Linked DNA regions of Homo sapiens. The protein of the gene in region 2 purifies or fractionates together with the protein of the main gene of each other region. This does not show direct contact. Each region holds a gene or a part of one and is shown on either strand. Other genes may lie near its edges.

Region 1 (3,500 bases), on a different chromosome or scaffold from region 2:
AGGTCCTGAGAGCAAAAGGAGGAGGCATTGCTTAGAGCAGTGGTCCCCAAATTTTTTGGCACCAGGGATCAGTTTTGTGGAAGACACTTTTTTCCACGGATGGGTTGGGGGGATGGTTTCAGGATGATTCAGGTACATTACATTTATTGTGCACTTTATTTCTATTATTATTACATTGTAATATATAATGAAATAATTATACAACTCACCATAATATAAAATCCATGGGAGCCCTGAGCTTGTTATCCTGCAACTATACAGTCCCACCTGGGGGTGATGGGAGACAGTGACAGATCATCAGGCCTTAGATTCTCATAAGGAACATGCAGCCTAGATCCCTCGCATGTGCAGTTCACAACAGGGTTCAAGCTCCTGTGAGGATCTAATGCTGCTGTTGATCTGACAGGAGGCAGCGCTCGGTGGTAATGCGAGTGATGGGGTGTGGCTGTAAATACAGAGGAAGCTTCACTCGCAGACCACTCACCTGCTCTGCAGCCGGGTTCCCAACAGGCCCAGTTCCTAACAGGCCGGTACTGGTCTGTGGCCTGGGGGTTGGGGACCCCTGGCTTAGAGGACATCATCAGTAGTACTTAGGAATAAGGGCTGAGATAGAACGTGGAGTTTAGCAAAAGATCTAAGTAGAAGCAAGTTTAGGTTGAGGAAATTGAGAGGTGAAATGTTGGTAGTTATTGTTATAAAGTGGCAGTGAAAGGAATACAGGATGGCAACTAGAGAGACAGGAGGATTAATGAAGATTTTTCTTTTCAGAGGAGGGGAGATATATATTTGTATGAAAGTCAAATGAGTAAAGATGTTGAAGACAATGGGTAGGCCCTAGGAAAAAGAAAGCAAACATGGGGTAGAGACTATGGATTATTGGGATATCCAAGGAAAGAAAAGAGGGATGCATGTCTTTTCCTTAAGAAAAGAAAGACGGAATGAAGAGTGGATACAGGAACATTTTGAAAAGCAGAAAGGAGAAGATCAAATGTTGGATGCCTTCAGTTAGTAAAGTAGGAACTCAGAACCAATGAGCTTCAAGGGATCTTAGAAACAACTTGGTTTAACTCAATTCATATATATTTGTATTTGTATATATTTATATATAATTTGGTATATATACAATTAAATTTTAAACAATAAATTTGTATTCAGTTGAATCTTCACTGAGTTTAATAATTCTGTATAGTTTTATAATAGTTACCTTTTGGTCATTTCCTATCACACTTCCCAAAAATGACAGTTCAGATGTGTTCCAGTCACGTTCAGTGTTGTGTGACTGTGTGTTAGGAATATCCCCATTTAATAGCTGAGAATAAGAAAAGCAATGGGAGTGATTTAGGCCTGGGGAGTGCCAGAGGTCCAGGATGTAGGGAATTAGAGAGTCAGTGAAGCCAAGATTGAAGTGGATGACCACAGATTCAGGTCGGCAGGGAAGTGGGCTGGTGAAGATCTAATGGGTTGAGTGGGAATGAGTATTGAAACAGAAAGAGCTAAGACATGACTTATGTAGAGACCAAGGGAGAACTTCCCCTCTGCCCTCTGAAGACTTGCCAGAAAAAACTGACAACAGGTAGATTAATCGGAGAAATGGCATACAAGTTTATTAACGTGTGGGGTGGGAGGAGGGAGACAGAGTGATTACCTGAACCCCAAGAGGCTCAGAAGCTTATATACCATCTTGAGGCAAAGGTGGTCCTGTCATGTAGATGAAACCTCATAGGGAGGAGCCCTCAGAGAGAATAGATGGTGAATATTTCTTTCAGACCTTTAAAAGTGTCAGACTCTCAGTTAGTCTTTCCTAGATCCAGACAAGAGAGAACCTTCAGAGAAGGCCAGGTTGCATCAATGCAGATTTTCTCTACAGACACAAATCTACCTCACAAAAGACAGCTTTGCAGGGCTGTTTGTTTGCAGGCCCTCTGAACAGCCATCTCAAAATATGTCAAAGAAGTATAATTTGGGGTGAAATATTCTGATTTCCTTCACTTGCTAGACCCTGAAGTGGGAGAAAAGAGGGTGCACATTGAGGCTGTGGCCAGTCAAGGGGAGCACACGTGGAATAGTGTGCTTTCAGGTAAGATCCCTGTGTGTTTGTGCATGGGGCTGCTACTTAGGGATTTTGGTTTGTGAAGTTGAGGAGAAAACAATCCAGAGATCAGTTAACGTCTCTCCTCCATTTGAGATGTGTGCAGCTTCTTTCATAAATACATTATTATTTTCAAATAAACTTTTAATTTTGGAACAACTTTGATTTATGTAACCACCCCACAGGTTCTTCTTTCTTGCTGCCCAGATAGAACTGGTTTATCAACACGGGAGAATTGCAATAGAGAAAAAGAGTTTAATGCACACAGAGCCGGCTAAACAGGCGGCCAGGGTTTTATTATTACTCACATTAACCTCCCTAAAAATTTGGAGGCTAGACTTTTTAAAAGATAGTTTGGTGTGCAGGGGGTTAGAGAATGGGTGCTGCTGATTGGTTGGGGAGGCAATTGCAGGGGTATGGAAAATGGTCCTTGTATGCTGAGTCCATTTCTGGATGGGGGGGCCACAGGAGTTGCTGGTTTGGGAGGAGTTATCCAGTCATCAGAAATATAAAAATCTGAAAGTGGTCTATCTTTTAAAAGGCCAATCTTAGCTTCTTTAATAGTGATATTATGTGTAGAAGTAATTGGAGAAGTTGCAAATCTTGTGATCTCCAGACCAGTGGCTGGTAATTGTTTACATGTAATCACAACAAAATTCAGTCCCCTCTCATAATCCTAAACTTGTGACCTTTTATTAGTTTTATAAAGGCAGTTTAGTTTAGGGAAGAGCTGTTATCATTTAACCTGTAAACTAAATTCTTCCAAAGTTAGCTTGGTTCTCACTTGGGAATGACCATGGGCAGCTTGAAGGTTAAAGGCAAGATAGAGTTGGTTAGGTCAGATTTTTTTTCACTGTTATGATTTTCTCACTGTTACAGTTTTTGTAAAGGTGGTTGGTTTTATTTACAGAAGCATTACAAAGATTTCTATGTACTTTTCACCGACTTTCCCGTAAGGTTTGTATCTTGCATAACCGTGGTACATCGGTCAAAACTTAAGAAATTAACATAGCTATAATATCATTTTAGACTGTAGATACTATTCAGAAATTCACTGGTTGTTCCACTATCCATTTACTGCCCTGGGATACAATCCGAGATTCAACACTGCATTTAGTCTAGTTTATTTTGTTATTGTAAAAGCCTTATTGTGTTTTTGTAAATTACTTCTTCATTTTGGTACACTTCACTACAGGTTGTGCTGATGTCACCTGTAAGTGTAATGAACATTTTCTATAGTTTTTCATCTAGATCTAGGCCATTAATAAAATACTAATGTTTAGATCTAGATTTCTGGACTACCATTTGGGCTGATACTCCCTAATTGTTGATAAATTATCAGTCAGTATTACCACCTAAATAATTTTCCATGATTCAGCTTTTATCATGCACAGCATATTCATTTCATTTA
Region 2 (3,500 bases):
GGTGTACTTCGGAAGATGAGAATTTTGTTTTCATGAATTGGGTAACACCCAGGCATTGTTAGGTACCCCGACAGACCCTCTAGATATCCTTCTCTTCCTCCTTCACACTTTCTTCCTATCAAAATAGTTATTGTTTTGAAATTCACTAGAACAACGACGTTCTAAAAACAAAGGCGCAGCAAGCATCCCTTTCTTCGCTGCCGCGGGCTGAACCACGGACGCTCGCGGGTCGCCCAGCCCCGACGGCCCGCAGGGGGCGCGCGCCGCAGCCGCAGCACAGCCCGGCTACCCCCAGAAAGGGAGCCGAATGGAGGGAAGCAGGGAGCGCGGAGGGCTCGAGGCTTGCAGATAAGGAGAGGCGCATCCTGGGATTTGGGTCCTCTGCTGCTACAACACAACCGTGCTATTGTTGGCACTGTCCGACCCAAGTGTCGGTGGTAAGCGGCGATGTCGGGGCTGGGTCTCTAGCAACCGCTGTGCCCTGGGTCAGGCTGGTCGCCCCAGCTACCGGGATCCCTCTCCGGATGCTTCCAGGGCGATAGGTGCTGCACCCATTGACGGGATAGCCGCATACCTCCGAACAGGTAGTGGAGTTCGTCTCTGGCAGGCATCCTAGCTGCGCTGACACCAAGGTCGCCACACAATAGCCATCAGCCCCCCTTAAGCCCCAGAAGTAGGTTTCCCCTGCCCCAGCCATAGCGGTTCCAGTCGTCGCCACGAGCCCACTTCTTATCCCCAAGCGCACCTCCCTCTCCTCACCCGGGTTTATGCCCGTTACACAGAGAGAACTACACAGGGGGAACTATGGTCCTACACCCTCGAGGGGACAGACACCGGCCGTGAGACAGGCACCACGCAGAGCCTTCTGGTGACTGTCCGCAGGAGCGAGACCTTTTTTGGTTTTGCAGTCGGCTAGGTGTGTGTGTGTGAGGGTCCCCAGTTGACTACCGGGATGCACTGCCACTTTTCGGCCTGGCGGGCTCTGGGACTCCTTGGTCTCCGTAGGAGGCCATCCTAGGCCTTCGGAGGAGGCGCTCCCAGCTGGCGGCGCCCCTCGCCCCGGGCTCAGAGGCGGACACGGTCGGTCGCGCCCTGCTGGCCCTTTGTTCGCGCCGCAGCGGGCTGGGAGCAGCTGCGCGACACCAGACCCACAGCGCCAAGACGCGAAGCGCGAGGAAACCGCTGCGCTTGACTCCTTCTCCCCCAACTCTTGGACCCAGGAACGCTTCCAGCTCCTGCGTCCCACACGCCCAGTCCTGGCTTCTCTCCCGGCCCAGAAGTCTTCAAGGATTGAAGGGCTCTGCCTAGGGCCCCGCACTCCTGCCTGACTCCCATGGCCCAGAAAAGCAGGGGGACATTTGAAATGTCACCCCGGGATAAATATTAACAAAAAAGCAAATGGACTTGTGCAGGGGCCAGTTATCAATCAACCAGGCCGCAAGGCCACTCAGGGCAAACACAGCCCAGGTTGGGCTGGGCGAGACTTTCTCATGGCCGCCCCCCGACCGAACCCCTCCCCCCTTGGCTCAGGTCCTTCTTAGGTCGTTCTGGGGCAAACACCGGACGGGAAGGGGGCGCCGCCAACTCCCCCGCGGGGTTTGGAGGTTTCCTCGCCTCCAAGTCCCGCAGGGCAGGGTCGGAGTGCCCAACACCCACCCCCGCCCGAACCTCGGGCCTGCGCGCCGCCTTCCCCTGGGTCCGCGGTGCTGCGCTTGCTGTTGGGTGTGTGTCGCTGTCTCTTTCCGAGCCGGCAGCTCCTGCTGTGTGGCCGAAGCCCTCTGGAATCTTTAATTGGAAACTAATCTTGGTCTTGATAGACGCCCACGTCAGAGGCGCGCCACCCACCCACACCCCCCGCCTCATCCCGGAGGAGACGCGGCGAGAACCCTGTCGCTCTGCTCTTTAATGGGGCAGCAGCAAGTAGTACATGGAGGGAACATATATTGATTTTTAAAAGGTAGTTAATTTGGTGGGAATTTCCTCCTGTCGCCCTTCTTCCACCAGCCGCTGTTATTTCGTGACCGGAAGGCGCCTCCCCAAACACAGCGCCACGTGCAAGAGGGTTTTGACCCTCTGCAACAGGCTGCCGGCAACTGGAGGACAGAGGGGCGTGGAGAAGCCACCACTCTCCCGCTGCGGAGCGAAGGAACCGAGCTCAGTGAGCCCTGACCTCGCAAGGTGGTTGGAACGAGACTGGGGAGGGTCTCTGAGCGCAACAGCAAGGAAAGCTGCCAGGGGCACCTCCCCATATGGGAGCTGGTAGTGGGGGGCAGGCACTAATGTCCCGTAGGAACGGCCAAGGCGCTCTGCAATCCATTTTAAGGCTCATGCACTTGGCCCGTTAGAGATCATTTGGAAAGTTCAGAAAATAACCCCACTCTTTTTAAAATATGAAAATGTTAATGAGATGGCTCCTTCTTCAGTAACTTAAAAATAGGTTGTGAAGAGACTGTTCCTGGTTCCTTGCAGGAGACCCTCCTGGACCAACACAGAATCCTCAGTCCTAGCCCTTTCCACCATCCCTTTTAAGTTAAGGAAACAAAAATGTAATAGACATGCTTCCTCAGGGTCTCAGGACACAGAGTCGGCTTGGTGTTTGGTGCCAAATGCCTGCCCTGCTGGACTCTCCAGTGTTTCACTTTTTCGAGGAAAAGGCCATGGGCCTAGGGCCGAGGGCTGCATGGACCTCTACAGGTTGCTGGGTGCCCAGGCAGGCGCTCCTTCGATAGCCTCCTGGGTGCCACAAGCACCTGCCAGGCACCATGTTTGCGCCTCCAGCGTGCGGGTCCCAGCACTCAGGCTCCCTCCCCCTCCACAGTGCCGTCCCCTGAGCTCGGCTATGTAGCTCTCCACGCTTGGAGGTCAGAGGGCGCTCCTGCGGCCAGGTTTCCATGGCTCAGAGGTCGTCTCTGAACAGAACGTGTCAGTCTGTCCTTCCAGGGGGCGACAGCAGGCAGTGGGGGGAGGAGGGATATTGAAGTCCAGAGCAAGAGCCTCCAGGGGGCGGGGGTGGGGGATGGGGACCGAGTTTTCCCGGAGGGGTAGCCTTCTCCATTTCTATCTTCTTCCCACATTCCCCCGCTCCACTCTTTGGCTTCAGCGGGCACTGCCTGGGTAAGAGGCCCTGAAGCCTGGCTCTGGGGTGGTGTGGGTGTGTGAAAAGGCACTACCTTGGGCTCTGGAGAGACGGAGCAGTCAGGACGAGGAGCAGCCCCTTCGCCCACTCCCTCCGGAACCTCAGTTGCTCGCGGGCAGCCCACGGGTGGAGATATGGTGCCGGTAGCACAAGAGCTAGAGAGTGGAAAACCGGGGGCCAGCGATTCGCTGGGGCGCCCAGCGAGCCTCTTCTCCCCTGACTGGTTCCCGGGCGCAGGCTGCAGGAACCTGCATGAGGACTTTGCCTGGGGCGAACGAAGGCAGAGCTGGGCTGGAAAACCTGGCAGGGCAGAGTCTCAGCCAGCGCGGTGCTTTGGGACCGGTGGCCTGCAGCGCCCAAACCC

Evidence for each region. The genes of interacting proteins can lie anywhere in the genome.
Region 1: the proteins of ONECUT1 (region 2) and CDS1 purify together in Homo sapiens (affinity purification with mass spectrometry; one large-scale study listed by BioGRID and IntAct). This does not show direct contact.

Annotation. Positions count from the first base shown.
Region 1 is NC_000004.12:84,586,127-84,589,626, forward strand, and holds part of CDS1 (phosphatidate cytidylyltransferase 1), read left to right. Parts: intron 1-3,500. UniProt on the Homo sapiens protein: Catalyzes the conversion of phosphatidic acid (PA) to CDP-diacylglycerol (CDP-DAG), an essential intermediate in the synthesis of phosphatidylglycerol, cardiolipin and phosphatidylinositol.
Region 2 is NC_000015.10:52,783,837-52,787,336, forward strand, and holds part of ONECUT1 (hepatocyte nuclear factor 6), read right to left. Parts: intron 1-3,500. UniProt on the Homo sapiens protein: Transcriptional activator. Binds the consensus sequence 5'-DHWATTGAYTWWD-3' on a variety of gene promoters such as those of HNF3B and TTR. Important for liver genes transcription.